Linked DNA regions of Homo sapiens: region 1 is linked to region 2. Evidence: fine-mapped expression QTL. Tissue or cell type: whole blood. Region 2 holds a variant in brackets; the other region holds the start of a gene. All regions are shown on one strand. Distances are from middle to middle.

What was found. PIP is the estimated chance that this variant, and not a neighbour inherited with it, causes the effect.
Region 1: it holds the start of DUSP23, and the variant in region 2 is fine-mapped to the expression of DUSP23 in whole blood (TOPMed, PIP above 0.99).

Annotation. Positions count from the first base shown.
Region 1 is chr1:159,777,738-159,785,843 of GRCh38, forward strand. It overlaps DUSP23 (dual specificity phosphatase 23), which reads left to right and starts at 3,225. Exons shown (of 2, transcript NM_001319658.2): 1 at 3,225-3,630; 2 at 4,416-4,806. The coding sequence starts at 3,364. The coding sequence ends at 4,601. LOC101928264 (a long non-coding RNA gene) reads right to left here and starts at 1,644. Exons shown (of 3, transcript XR_922193.3): 1 at 1,489-1,644; 2 at 678-924. RefSeq lists a silencer at 3,160-3,549 and an enhancer at 3,541-4,117.
Region 2 is chr1:159,749,186-159,757,291 of GRCh38, forward strand. No RefSeq gene overlaps it. Among named protein-coding and RNA genes, the nearest start is that of DUSP23, 28 kb to the right of the region's middle. The variant A/G (reference allele first, on the strand shown) is at 3,119.

The DNA.
Region 1 (8,106 bases), 29 kb after region 2:
TTATAAAAGAATGACTTGTATTCCTTTGGGTATATACCCAGTAATGGGATTGCTGGGTCTGCTGAGCTTTTCATTGGACAGTAGACAAAATGGAAAGAAAAATCCCTCTCTTCATAAGACATTTCTGGTAGTTCCAATTCAAGCTTATCTTTCCCCCACTGACTTCTTTTGCACTTGTTTTTACTGCACAATTAGCTTTTTAATATGTATTATCTGATTGTCTTTGATGAGCAATTTAGTACTTTATTATATGTCCTGAGAATAATTACATCAGAGTCTAAATCCCCCGCAAGGATGTTGTAAATTCCTTGAAGTCAGGGAAATTTCTTAAGCTTACTACTCAGCCCACCATCAGTGTCAATAGATTGTTCTCCAGGAACACGGCCCCTCCAAAGCACTCAAATACACAAGCCATCACACACATGCACACTACAAGAGCAGTGCTCTATAAAGAACAAGCTTTATTTGTCCCATTTCACAAAAATAGTAATTAGACATAGCCAAGATCATACTGACACAGCCATTCTTTATTTAAAAGCACAGTCAAGTAAAAAATACACTTCAAAGAGATACTACCCAATACTCAACACAGTCCTCAAACTTGTGCATTTAAAAAGAATTACAAATACACATTGCCACATGGTCCGACAGACTCACATTCACTCCTAGAAATGTACCTTCACGGTCTTGCCAATGCATTCTTCTTATTAATTTCCCATTCATTTGTTTACTTAACATTTTGAGCCCTGTGGCTCAGGCTCCATATTAGATGTGTGGAATTCAAAAACGGAACAACGCATTCTTGCCTCCTCTGCAAACAAGTATCCTCAATCCAATGACATTACTATACTGAGAAGACATATTTATACAAGGTGAGATGGGAGAAAAAAAAAAAGCCTAAATCTTCCTGAGGGTCAGGTAACTCTGTACAGAGGAGAGAATAAAAGAAGGTCAGTATCATGTATGTGGGCAGACAAGAAGGTGGTTAGTTGCAGAAGTCCTGTTAATTGCAGAAGTCTGAGCCAGGAAACCATCAGAGAGGGTTTTTCCTTACAGTTTGAGGCCCCTTGGGCCCAAGACAAAACATCATATGGCACCCTTGACATATGGCACCCTTGACAAAGCTTAAGGCAGGGACCCTGGGCCCTTTCCACTCTGGGTCTGCTGGAAGGGAAGGGCAGAGCTTCCTAAAAAGGGAGCCAACTGGCCTCTCCACATGGAGGCCCTAATGGTTTGATGGATGCACTGCTAGCCCTGCAGAAACCCACAAGAGGGAGAGAATCATTGGTAGGGGACTCAGGGAAGAGGAAGATCTCGGTCTCCCAAAAAAATTTTCTCTTTCTGGAGAATATGGGCTTCGAGCTGGATATCAAGGAGGCAAAGAAGGAGCACATAGGAGGGTAGGGAGTGAAGTGGAAACTTCCCTGGTGAGTAGGGGAAGCAAAGAAAGGAGAACAAGGCAAAGGGACTAAGAAAAGATTAACTTACAAGAACAAATGCTAGAGTCTTGTCTCCAGAGGTAGTGCAACCAGAAATCCTGAAGAGCAGTTGAATTGAGAAGAGAAGTGGGAGGTCAGGGGGTTGGGGGAAGAGGTGACTGGTGGCTGAGAGGCCATGGCTGGGAAAGAGAGAAAGGAATAAACTGGGGAGGGCTGGTAACCTTGATAGGAATTTATGTAGGAAATGAGAGTGCAAACAGGAAGGGCTTAATGAGGGCTGTGATTGTCTGGAAGGAGAAAAAGGGGAGATTTGGCACCTCCTGGAACCTGGGGAAAGTAATTGTCTGGGTAAATGGTAAGTGTATTTCCCACAGGGTCAGAGCAGGCTTTGATCTTTAGGAGAAGACAAATTGCTTTCCATCTTGCTGAAGCCAAAGGCTTAAATGGTCAGACGTGTGTCATAGGTGGGTGCAAAGGGAAGGAAATATAATACATCCTCATGGCCAAGTGCCCTGGGCTTGGATCACTGTGTCCTTGGCCAAGTTAACCAACTTCTTTAAGCTTCCAATGATTCATGTACAAAAAAAGATACAAAAATACCTTTCACATGTGGTTCTTCCAGAAAGCGCTTGGCACAGGGCCTGGTACATAAACAAATTCAATAAGGGTTAACTATTTTCATAATTACAGTTAGTCTGCATCGCTAGAAGCACATTATTCAAATGAGGATATGGACTGGTCAGATGACAGTGGAAACGGTGTTCAGATCTAGGGGCCCCCACCTAGTAAGAACAACACTAATCAACTCTAGCCTGCCCAGGGGACAGTGACCCAGAGAACTAGGAAACCTTGAAAAATGAAGAAATATGAAATACTAATAAAAATTAAGAAAACCCACAAGCGTTTAACCCAGATAATATTTGGGGACATGAGGGGGTTATGTGAAGAGAAAACAATGTTCCATTTAACTTTAGGAAATGGCGATATTATTAAAGATTTTGGAGGCATTAGTCATCATCCTTTGGTCAAGTTTATTAACCTCTCCAGTGCCTCTGTTTTTTCATCCATAAAATGGGATTCACTAGATCACCTATCTTATAAGATTACTGTGGCAATTAAATGAGTCAGTATGTGCTAAGTGCTTAGAAGACTATCTAGCACATAATAAATGCTCAATAAGTCCTGAGGAGCAACTGGATTGACAGGAGAAGTTGGTGCTGGTTATTATTATTACTATAATTATTACCCTGGGTAAGTTTTTAATAGTTCCAGCAATGAAAAAATGAGAATAGCCTCCTTGCAGCAGTAATTCCCTCTTACTGGAACAGTTCAAAAAGTCGCTGATAACGACCAGTCAATCATTAGAGAGGAGACTCCTCGTCCTGGGAGAAAGCCGATTTGTCATCTCTTAAACCCCAGGGCATCCAGCGTGAAGGAGGTAGAACTAGGCCGGCCCGCGAGGAGGCAGGGGCAGGCGCCAGTGACGCAATGACTGCAACATGCCGCCAGGGTGCAGCAGAGCCCGACCCCGGGTTGTTCCATCCGCAGCAAACAATTCCTAACTCGCTCCAGGTCTTCCTTCTTAGCTGAGTGGGTTGAACCCCGTGGAAGTAACCCCCCGCCCATTATGATGATCCAGCCAATCACCGCGTGATCTGCTCGGACGGGGCGGGATCGCGGCGCTTCCCTCGGTCGCTCAGAGACTGGGTTCCGCGTTCCAGCCCCGCCCCAGGTTCTGGGCCAATCCCCGCGGCTGGGCAGAGCGACCCGAGGGCGGCGCCCTGCAGACCACGTGGCCCGGGAGGCGCCGAGGCCAGGTAGGTGGTGAGTTACTTGGCTCGGAGCGGGCGAGGGGACGCGTGGGCGGAGCGGGGCTGGCCAGCCTCGGCCCCCATGACCCGCTGTCCTGTGCCCTTTCCCAGCGATGGGCGTGCAGCCCCCCAACTTCTCCTGGGTGCTTCCGGGCCGGCTGGCGGGACTGGCGCTGCCGCGGCTCCCCGCCCACTACCAGTTCCTGTTGGACCTGGGCGTGCGGCACCTGGTGTCCCTGACGGAGCGCGGGCCCCCTCACAGCGACAGCTGCCCCGGCCTCACCCTGCACCGCCTGCGCATCCCCGACTTCTGCCCGCCGGCCCCCGACCAGATCGACCGCTTCGTGCAGATCGTGGACGAGGCCAACGCACGGGGAGAGGTCAGCGGGCGGGGTCAGCGCAGGGAGGGAGGGGCCTGGAAGGTCAGCGGGGGACACGGGCGGAGCTGGGGAGACCGGGCCTGGGATAACTTAACTGGGCTCGGGGAGGCAGACAGTAGGGCCGGGAGACTGGGAAGCCAGTGCGGGGGAGGGAAGCGCTAAACGGAAGGAACTAAAGAGAGGGCGAAGCAGTGCGAACTGGGCTTGAGGAGAGGCAGTGAAAACCAGCTAATACTGTGAGTTGTGAAGGAGAAGGGTGTGGACAGACACCTGGGAGAGGTGGGGGTTGAAGTCAGGTGGAGGCTGTTTACCATTTTCTAGAGTAAAGCTGTCCAAATATAATGGAACCTAAGTGGCTCCATGTAATGTTAATTTTTCTAGCAACGGCATTCTTAAAAAGCAGGGAAGCAGATAAAATTAACTTTGGTGATCTTAATGAGATATTTTCATTCTTTTTTCTACTACCTCTTCATACCCTGTTGCGTTTTTCACACTACATCTCAGTTTGGACTAGCCACATTTCGAGTACAGTAGCCACAGTAGCCGTGGCTACTGTCTTCTGTATTGAACACCACAGGTGGAGGGCTGTGTAGAGGTGGACAGCTCTTGAACCAGCCAGTGCAGAGGCCTCCTAGCCACCTAGTGCAGGGACAGCCCTCCCTGACTTTGCTGCAGAGCCCTGGACCTGGCACAGAAGAAGGAGCTGTGGGGAGAACCAAGTGAGGGGCAGGAAACAGTTGTGGGTGGGGGAGTTGAGTGGCACCCATCGAGCCCCCTCTTCGTAGGCTGTGGGAGTGCACTGTGCTCTGGGCTTTGGCCGCACTGGCACCATGCTGGCCTGTTACCTGGTGAAGGAGCGGGGCTTGGCTGCAGGAGATGCCATTGCTGAAATCCGACGACTACGACCCGGCTCCATCGAGACCTATGAGCAGGAGAAAGCAGTCTTCCAGTTCTACCAGCGAACGAAATAAGGGGCCTTAGTACCCTTCTACCAGGCCCTCACTCCCCTTCCCCATGTTGTCGATGGGGCCAGAGATGAAGGGAAGTGGACTAAAGTATTAAACCCTCTAGCTCCCATTGGCTGAAGACACTGAAGTAGCCCACCCCTGCAGGCAGGTCCTGATTGAAGGGGAGGCTTGTACTGCTTTGTTGAATAAATGAGTTTTACGAACCAGGGCACGTTGCATGGTACTTTATAAAGCATTCCCACACATTAACTTACTTCAGCCTCACTGTAGCCCTGTGATACAGGAAAGACAGATGGGCCATCTCTGTTCTTTGGATGAGGTGGGCAAAGCTCAGAGAGGCCCATCTTCAACACTTCTAGAAAGTGGAAGGATGGGCCAGAACAGCAACACACGTCTTCAATCCCTTGAAGATGCTGAAATGCTATGTATCTGTTCCCTGACAATATTTGATGTGTTTTCTGGGGGAGCTAGTCAATGAAAAGGATTCAGGTCCAGAATAGCCTGGCCTCCTGGCATTCCCAGGTCTCTGATGCTCACAGGCCAGGAGGCCCCTCCGTGTAGGCCCACCTGCTGCACACGTGTCACCCTTGTTTATCTGGGGGTAGAGACAGCCTGGATGTCACACTCACAGATAACCACCATCTCCACCTCCACAGGGCTGGTCACCTCTTACCAACCTCAGGTGCTGCTCAGCTCATCTGGGCTCTCTGGCTCATTCTGCTGCCCCACAACCTCAGGCCAAAGGACCTGAGAACAGAGCCAATCTAGGCAGTTATGCAGAGCAGATATTTAACAATTAAATGAAGAGTTCCAGGGCTCTAAATCTTGGCCATGTTTCTCAGATGTTATCTCCAGTTATCCCCTATTGGACCCCATTCTGCCCCCTTGTTGGGCCCTGTTTTGCCAGCACCACTACACTTTTGACTTATGAGAAATGGGAAGAATGGCATATATCCGCCCAATGGACTCTTTACTGTAGGTCTGCCTGTGGTCTTTTCTGCAATAGCAGGCTGAATAAGATAGAAATTCACCATAAAATATGTGAGTTCCTGTACGTACCTGTATGAGTTCTGTTAGATCTGGAGGCCGCACAGTGGAATGAGACATAATTCCTGCTCTCAGGAGCTCAGCCTGCTGGAGAAGATGGGCACAGATAGAGTCCACCACAGACAATGGATGCTATTGTAGACATGCATTCCAGTTCCAGTGGAGACATAGAAGAGTGGGGAGTCAAGGGTTCCCCTGTAGATCTCATCTTTTGTATCATAGACCAGAGACAGGCCTAGCCAACTGGTCCTCCTTTCTGCTGCTTTCCCCCTTCCACCACTAACCACCCAGTTCATCCCTGTCCAACTCAACCTTAAACAAGAGATATCAGCTGAAGTCTTGCCAATCTAAGGCCATAAGATGCCCTCTCCCCAGTTTAACTTTATTTGTCAAATCTGAGTGATCAGTTCCTTCAAGCTTAGTCTCCACCTAGCCTACTCAAGTGAGGATGTCTCCCAAAGAGAAGAAACCCACACATTCCAGGCATTCCAGCTGCAACAGAGGAATGAGAATGCAAATAGAGGATGCACTGAAACCCTTACCCTCCTGTCACCAAAAGTTCTGTCTACCCTGCTCTCCCCCATCCACCCCTCCCCCAATAGTATGGCCCCATTCTGTTTCTGATGCAAACCAGAACATCTTCCAAAGGGGTGTGTGTGTATTTTCATGTGAAGGGAGTAGGGCATGAAGGGTGTGAATGGGCCACTTCCTGAACCTCTCCCCTCCAGTCGGAGGGCTTACCAGGATGGAGAGAGAGAGAGAGAGGTGTGAGGCATGAAGCTTCCCCAAGTTCGTGTCTCCACTCTGATCCTCACCTGCTAGGCCATACAACCAATCCTTGCCCTTTCTGCCTCTGTTCCTGTGTCACTCCATCCTCCCCACATCTCTGCACTGTGGAAGAGGAATATGCCCTTCCCTTCCTCCCAAGGCTCCTGCAAGGGAAACAAAATTTTGCTAACCCCATTAAAGCCCTGTGTACTGCCTCCATCCCCATAATTTAAGCAAGTCTCCTCTGCCTCAAGAGTTCCTTAGGGAAATACACGTATAATTAAGTGCTTAAGGAAACTGCTTTTTAAATAATAAGAGTTGGCTTGAAATGAAAAACTCTGCCCTTATCCTTCCATCTACCTGGTGGGTTAGCCTGTGGCTTCCTTTGGGCTCGTTTCCACTCCCAGTTGTTTTTGTCTTCTCACCAAGCCCTCTTATGTCTATGGCTACCAATAAGGGGTAACAGACGAGCCATGTCCCTTCCCTTTCTACGCTGAGATAGATGATCTGTGCCACCATCTAAAAAGAACATTCGCCTCAAACCAGGATATCTCAACGATTGGCGTTTGAAAGTGGGTGATTCTTTGTTGTTGGGGCTGTCTGTGCATTGTTGGATCTTTAGCAGTTTGCCCGGCCTCTATTCACTAGATGCCAGTAGGATACCCCTCCTCCCCCCAGTTGTGACAACAAAAATGTCTCTAGACATTGCCAAATGTTCCCTGGGGGAGCAAAATCAGCCTCAGCTGAGAACTGCATGAGACCAACAAGCACTGGATGCAGTCATTGGCTTTCATTTCCTCTGGGAGTGGAGGTGGGAACATACTTGGTAATGTCTCCTGTGGATGCACACATCTTAATGGGACAGAAAGGACCAACTCAAACCTCCTACCTTTTCAAGCAATGTCTGGTAGCCATCCCTGGTCCGTCAGCCTTTTTCCTGGCTGGTTTCCCAAGACAGTGATAGACACCGCTAACTTTCCATATTCAGGAGACTTTGATTCTCAATGAGCTGCTGATGGGCACAGCTGCAGTAACATCTACTCCCACCCCCATTTTTTTTTACGTTTAATTCATGTTTATTCTCTGGTACGTGATCAGAGTTCTCTGGTGAACGGAGGCTTCTCTATCTGGAAAACATTCCTTCATATCATTGGGGCTCTGCAGTAGTCACCTCTTGGGTTCCCCTTTCAGAAAATTATCCAGTTGCAGAAACAACTGGAAGCAAGTCAGAAGGAGCACCAGCCTTAAACCTTAACCTTAACAAGCACCTTCTCTGAGAAGATTCCTCCTCATCCTTCCCTGACTGGGGCCCTTTTGCTCTCTGGGTTCTGGATTCCATGACTGCTTCATAAGCCATGTATCCCAACATAGGTGTCCTGCTCTAGAGAGGACTGGAGTGGGGAAATAGGCCACTGAGGCCTATTTCCTGCATACACTGCATACACTGAGGCTGGCACACACCTCCCTTGGAGCCATACTTGGTCATCACCCTTACATCCTGACCCATTCATAACACCTGGGGCTCCTGTCCACAGGAGGCTCATCACTGCTCTTCCTCTGGCTGAGGAGGTCCCACCTGCCCCGCATTATCCCCAAGACCTAGTCTTCCCGGGGCAATGGTGAGCACATTACCTGGGGCAGAGATTTGATCTAAACCATAAACCATTTCCCAGAATGAACTGCACCCGTGTGC
Region 2 (8,106 bases):
CAGCCAGTCATCAAGAGTCTTATAAAGGGGGTCATTGAGTTACATCCTATGGTTCCTCTGGTACCTCAACTAGTTAAGAAGGGCAGAGGCCTAGAAGTGCAGAGTCCAGGAACCTAAGAATGCCTTGTTTCACATAATATCATTTCATTTTTATACTAAATCTACTCTTAAAGGTTTTAAGTCATGCCTCTTAGTTGTGATGAAAGAAGAAAAGGTGATTTTTATGCCCAGGTATCAGCTGCCTATCTAAAGATTTCAAGCACACTCTTCTCAAGCTTGTTTTTTGCATCCTGAATAGTCCTTGCTGTGGTAACCATTTACCTGAAAACTTGTCCTTCGATAGGACCCTTCCCTCTGTTCCACCATGCTAACACCAGGGAATGGGCTAAAAGGATAAGGAGGCGCTGAACCCAGAGTCACCATGGCCATGTCCAAAGACTCTGACAGCAGCTGGGATGGAAGATGAGGTGGAGGTGGGAATAAGCTGGAACACTACTTTGCACCCTCAGGGGGCACCATTTACACCATATTCCTGTACTGGGCAGCCCTCGTGTGAGCCCATCTTTCTACTTCCTGCTTTCCAGTTGCTATCTCCCTACCTTGAGTTTTATTCTTTTGATTTTTTAGAGGCAAAATTGCAAGGTAAGGAAAATATATTAATGTGCAAATTTTTTTCAAATATAGTCTTTTGGGAAGTGTAGTGGGTGAGACTCAGATTTACACTAAGGAATGGCAACGTTTGCCATTGAAGACCCTATCCCAGCCTCCATGATGCACAAGTAATCATCATGACATGATTTGGTGCTGACTCAGGGAAGGAAGAACCATTGATCCTAACATCTCTCTGCATCACCTGAGTATTGATTCCTGTGTACAACTTGCATTGTACTGGGTTAGTCTCTCCCCATTAACATTTACAGAATGTGATTTATGTACCTCAGAGAGTCTGATCCATCTTACTTTATATGACTAAGTCAAAAGAAAAGTTCAGAGGCTATTCTTAGCATTTAAAAAAGTAAAAGACAGCTGTTCCACATATGCACCATCCCAGTCAAATGACAATATACAGAGTACACATAGACTGAGGGGATGATAAGCACACGCATAGTCAGGGTGAGCTCAGTAGAATGGTGAGGGGTTGCGCCAGTAAGAATTGCATTCACCTGGCCAGGCGCGGTGGCTCACGCCTGTAATCCCAGCACTTTGGGAGGCCAAGGCAGGTGGATCACCTGAGGTCAGGAGTTCAAGACCAGCCTGACCAACATGGAGAAAGCCTGTCTCTACTAAAAATACAAAATTAGTCGCGTGTGGTGGCGCATGCCTGTAATCCCAGCTACTCAGGAGGCTGAGGCAGGAGAATCGCTTGAACCCAGGAGGCGGAGGTTGCAGTGAGCCGAGATCATGCCATTGTACTCCAGCCTGGGCAACAAGGGTGAAACTCCATCTCAAAAAAAAAAAAAAAAAAACAAAAAACAAAAGAAAACAGAATTGCATTCACCTGTAGTGTCAGAGATCCAAATACAGTGGCTTAAGCAGAACTAGGGGGGCTCATCTTCTTCCATAAAAGAAGTCAAGATAGAAGGCCCAGGAAGTGGTTTTGTTGCCCCATAAAGTTATCAAGATCTCAGATCCCCTCCAACTTATGGACCAACCATTCTTATTAAGTGGCTTCCATTCTCAAAGTCACAAGATGAATGATGAAATCTCACCAACCTAACTGTTTTCAAAACTAAAGGGGCCAGTAGGGGAGGGAAAATGGAAAGACTAAGGTCAAAAGATTAGACCCCAGAATTTTGTCTCACTTCAAGGAACACCCTCAGAAATCCCACCCAAACCCGTCTGTTTAAATCTCATTAGCTAGAACTTAATCATATAACAAAATGTTATAAGAATGCAAGGGAGGCTAGGAAATGTTGTCTCTTAGCTGTGCATAAAGTACAACCAGGGTTTATTTCTAGGAAGAATAGAAAAACAGATATTGAGTGGCCAAAGAGTGGGTGATGTCATAGCATTGTATAATCTGTGTGAAGTCAATGCAGTGGGCCATGTGATCTCAGCTGAGCTCAGTGCAAAGTGGATATGAAATCACTAAGATGGTGAAGGGTGTGAGCTTAGCAGAAGAGAAATGTACAGAGCCAACTGTGAGAGTGACAATGTGGTGTGTGATGTATAACCTATGGGGGCTCAATGGGAAGGTGAGGCTGTGCACAGTCAGTCTGGGTTCCTGGGATCATTCAAGTGTAAAGCAGAGTCATGCAGGGTCAATGAGATCGTGAAAAGTGTGCACAACCAGTATGGTCTGAATGAGTCGGTGAGGGGTGTGCACAGCTGGTGTGAATTCAGAGGGCAAATTAGGTCTGCTTGGCCTGTAGAAATGCACGTTCATTAAAGCCTTTATTTCTCTTGCAGCTCTTTGAGAGCATCCTTTCATAATAACTACTCAGTAAGATCAGGGAAACTTGGAAATATCCTGTGGTCATATAGAGAGGCCATGCCCACCCCTCCATCTAGATAAGTGGTTTGTAATTAGGGCCTGCCTTCATGGGGCAGATGATACAGGTACAGATACAAGTATAGGTGGTTCCTCTTGTCAGTTCCAACCAGGCGCCACTTTGCTGCTGTCCTTCTATGGCCAAGTTTCCTCCGGTTAGCAGGCTTCATACATCACAACAGGCAGGTTTATACACCTTAACCCAAAGCCAGTACTGCTAACAAATTACCTTGACATGTTGATTGCTTGCCTTAACTCACCCTGGAGGCCTCCAGAGGCCTTCTTCACATCACCACAAACACTTCCAATTAGTGCATTGGTTTATCAGGAACTCTTTTCTTGGTGCTCTATTCTGCTCTCCATGACCTTGGTTGCCTGAGTGATACATCCTTTAATTTGTTCCTACATCTTGCTTGGATTTTCCCCTGCTCATCTCTGTCTCTGCTTATACAGGATGTGTTTTATTGCCACACAGACTTAGCTGGTAGCCTCTGTGGCATCATCCAACACTGATGTCCCTCAGTCAACTCTAGAACACCCATAGGTGGCCTCTGTAAGAGACGTTTCCAGGAACAGAATGCCAAACATACTGTTTATCAGAGTTCTTGAGTTGCACAATGGGAGGAA[A/G]TTGTTGCTTAGGATTTCAAAGGACACCAGAGAATTTCAACACACACCTGGAATGGTGCCCTGTTGCTTGTCCAGTCAATGCCAAGTTAATGATGGGAAGGAATAGCTGGTGTGTCACGTGATTGCCAAGCACTGTCGCAAATCCTTCCTGAGGTCAACACTCCCAACCCCGCCAAACTCTACAGCTCACAAATCAGCTGCAAGTGGAGCATAAAAAATGCAACATTGTGGAATTAACTACTTATGGGCCACACCTGAAATTGCCTGATTTTGGTTAAAGAAGTGGTTACAACACGCCCTTAAAATCATCATGAGCTTCTAAGAGATGACAATGACTCATAGATTTATCTGTCATGATCAGTTAAAATTCTAGACATAAACTCAACCTGAATTCTTAAGATCAATGGTTCGAAAGAACTGACATTTGAGAATCCATCCCATTTTACTTTGTAGATGCATTGATACATTTGTGGAAAATGACAAGAAATTAATCTTGAGCTCCTTTGCCCAAGAGGTTACCCATAGTTGTATACTCTCAACATACCTGCAAGACAACATGCCAGAGCTATGCCAGGATCTGATATTATTGAGTCTGGTTTTCCCAAATGAAGATCTTGATTTGGATTAGTTATCTTGAATGTGGAAATTCTCCTTCCTTTAATAATATCCTATTGAAGTAAGTTAGGATTTCACACAGGTAAAGTTACTACAGCTTTAGTAACTTTACCTACCACAATTTTAGTAACTTTACCTGTGTGAAAAACTGACTTTTGTTCACTTTTGGAATAAAGAAGGAGCAGCAGAAATTATTACCCATGAATCCTATATAAAAGATCCTGTGTCACAGAAATGTGTCTGGTCTTCTTCGGAAAGGTAGACCGACCCCAATTTCAGGACACCGCAGGAATTCAATATAAATTTGAAACTCTATGTTACAATTTACAGAGGTGTAGCTAACTCAACAACTGGAAAGAATAACAATTACTGCCTCTTGTTTACAAAATTTTTTTCTGTTCAAGACTTCTTCGAACTCTTATTACATAAAGTCAACTCCATGATCAGAAAGGCCATGAGAATTGTGCCAAATGCTAGATGAAGATGTGACTTTCTCAACCCCTTCACCAGTCCTCTTGTTTACCTGGTTGCCCAATGAGATCGAGTCTCTCTATTGGATCAAGACTGGTGTTGACAAAGAGTCCCAGAGCCAAGGTGGGAAGCCAGGTAGAAAAATACAACAAGTCTAAGAATTACAGGCAGGACTGGGAACGGGAAAAGTCAAAAAGGCTCCGAGCCAAATGAGAAGTCAGAAATCACATGCATATCAGGAGTCCAGGTTAAGTGTGTAGGTTAAAAATCAAGCCAGCAGTTAGAAACCAGGAAACCCACAGGCACCAGGGAGCAATGCAAGTCCAAGGGTCAGAAAACAAATAAAAGGCCAAGACAGCCAATTAAAAAGCACCATCATGATGAACTTCACGAAAGTCCCTGCTGTTTCAGGGAAGAAGGCTCTTCCTTCATTTCTGTGGGAGATGTGACCATGCGAGGTTGTGCAGGTAGAAGCCGGGGATCCATGTTAAAAGAGTGGAGTCAAATGAGAGAGGCGCTGTGTCTGGAATCATGCTGAAAGACGCATCATGATACCTCTACACAGTGCAGTAATTAGCCACCTATGTCACATCAGGATTTCAGGGCTCACTGGCCAAGAACAGCCACATCCCTGTCAGTACCATTTTTCCACCTCCTGGCACCCTTTCCCTTCTGGTTCCCAAACCCAAAAAAATTCATACTGCCCAACGGTGATCCAAATCCTTCCTGGGAGGCACAGTGCTCAGACTTTCCCATTTCCTAAAGCCTTCCAAGTGAAACAAAGAAAAAAATAATGCTTTTTTTTTTCAATTTGGACAGCATATCACAGATGCTAAGAGGAAGCAAGTGTATCAAACTCTGAATTTAAATGATAAATATCCTTAGCTATTGTAAAGGTATTTGAATTTGAAGGAAAGAACTAATTAATACAAAAGTGCCTCTAGAACTCTGCGCCGGCGTGTTGGAGGAATAAGGGTTAAAAACAAAACATCTCTCTTTAAAAAAAAAAATTACTTAAGCATACAACTTGAATTATAGTTGTAAAAAAAATGTTGGTTTTCCTTCATGTTGAAACGTACTTATTAATCAAGACTTCTAAAGACTCTGTTTAAAGGTGATAACTGATTCATCTCCCTTATCTCCCTTTTTAATCAGGTGTAGTTCTAGGAATAAATGCAGACAATTTGAATTTTAATGACTTCCAACAAGTGATATTTGACCACATAAAAAATTCAAATATTTCTGTTTTCTAGGACAAAAGATAAATTATTGCAGAGGCCACGCTGCACAACAAAAACAGCACGGGCTCAAAATTGTCTTGGCAAGTCCCTCCTCATCACCGGTCCCAGTATCCTCACAGAGATAAAAATACAGACTTTGCAGGGCCAGGCGCGGTGGCTCATGCCTGTAATCCCAGCACTTTGGGAAGCCAAGGCGGGCAGATCACTTGACGTCAGGAATTCGAAACCAGCCTGGCCAACATGGTGAAACCCCATCTCTACTAAAAGTACAAAAAAAAAAAATTAGCTGGGCATGGTGGGGGGCGCCTGTAATCTCAGCTACTTGGGAGGCTGAGGCAGGAGAATAGCTTGAACCCAGGAGATGGAGGTTACAGTGAGCCAAGATCATGCCACTGCACTCCAGTGAGACTCTGTCTGTCTCTCTCTCTCTCTCTATATATATATATACACACATTGTACATATACATATACTATATATATTATACATTGTATATATTGTATATATGTATACAATGTATATATGTATATATACATATATATGTATATGTATGTATATATTGTGTATATATACAATGTATATATATGTGTATATGTATACAATGTGTATATATGTATACAGTATATGTATATATACATTGTATATATTGTATATATGTATACAATGTATATATTATACAATGTATATATATACACATTGAGAGAGAGAGACTTTGCAGAGTTCTTGCGAAGATGAAAAATTATGCATGATAAGTATCTAGCACACTGTAGCACATCATAGGTGTTCAATGAATAGTAGCAACTGTTACTTTTATTCCACTTACCTAACAAATGCCCAATCACTTTATGTTGTAAACACACTTCTATCTAATCAAAAGAGAGAGTAAAGCAGGAAGAGCATCTAGGTGCAGTGGCAGAAATTCCAGTGTAAGAGTAGAAAACTGGGTAATGATCCCATTTTCATCGCCAGTTAGTTGTGTGTCTTTGCAAGTCACCTAACTTCACTCAACCTCAGCTTCCTCATTTGAAAAAAAAATGAAAGATTTGAACATATAACTTTAGTCACTCCCAGATGTGAGGGTCTCTGCCACTGATTACCTTCCCTAGCAGAGAGAAGACTGGTAAAAGATTGTCCCTGTGTGGGGACAGCCTATCCCTAGATGATCAGATGTTTGCCCAACGCAGCTCTGAACTCACCCTTACACCTACAGTTCCCAATCCTGCCTCTCATCTTTGGACCTTGCTCAAGAGCACAAATGAATTTCTACTCCTAAGACCAGACATAAACACTAATCACTAATACATGCTCATCCAAAGATCTAGGATAATTTGCTTTAGTTACCTGTGCCTCAGTTTTCTCCTCCGTAAAAGTAGGAGAGCAATATTCACCTCAATGAATTTTTATGAAGATTAGATAAGACATGTTTGTGAAAGTAAGTTATCGCCTGTACAGCATTGTACAACACTAACATAGCAACTATGATTATTGTTGATTTACACTGTTGGAAACACTCTATGGAAAACAGAAGAGAAGTTGCATTGAGTCGGGACACCATGGTTCATCCGTCTGAGCTCCTGCCTTCTGTGGGTTTTCTAAGCATAGAAGAATCAGGCAGAATGGCATTGAATTCTGCTGTAATCAGATATTGATTTTCTTCCTAACTGAGAAAGGAGGATTATTTAAACTTTCATTTATAGGAAACTGGCAGGAACCTGTTTAAATGGCCCAAGTAAGTTTTCACCTCTTTAGCAATATCCTACCCATGTGATCAGAGGTTTCCCTATTTCAAGAGGTAATTGCAGAATTTCAGGAAAGCCACCTATTACTAATTGTAACAAATCCATCAATCTCTACAAAGAACAACAGACCTGTCCCTCCAGAGCCCCACTCTTAGGCTTTGCTGGGCTTACTGCTCCATGGATCACCAGGCTCCTGTGGTCACAAGGAGGCTGTAAGAAATGCAAGGCCATCTAAGAGGAAGTTGAGCATGCTGCTGTGTTCCTCAGGGATGTCCTGAAATGCCCCCTGTTTGCAGTGTTGTGAAATGTTGTAGATTCTCTTCCAGAATTTTCTCCTCCATACCAAAGTCTAAAAACTATTTGTTGATAAAGGTTTTAGGCAATTACTTCAGAACATAGCTCCATGTGTTGGGTTTTCTGAGCAGTCAGCTATGTAGAAGCTTCAGTTAGCATTCTTTCTCTCTCTCTCTCTCTCTATCTCTCTCTCTCTCTCTCTCTCTCATCCTTCCCATCCACATTTGCAGGTAGCATGCCCTTGGCAGCGTTGATCCCATAAACAGAATAGTAAGCAACTACTTGCCTGGTGTAATTTGAGATGTGGCACAATCCCCCTGCTCAAAATATCATCCCCACCAAATGCCACAGGGCCTAAAATTCCCAGTATTCAACTCACGGCAGCTAATCTTCTCTTGCTTCACCCCATCATCTCTCCTAATACCTGCACGTGTGAAGCATGTCCATCCTTCCGGGCCTAACTCAACATCACTTTTTCCTGAAGCTTTTGTGATTGCCCAGTTGGAAGTGATCTCTCATTCCTCTGAACATTCAAAAAGCTTCACTTGTGCCGCTTTTATGTTACATATTACTTTATATTTAAACACATGTACTATGTCCCACCAGGCATAATCTGGAGATTCAATTCCT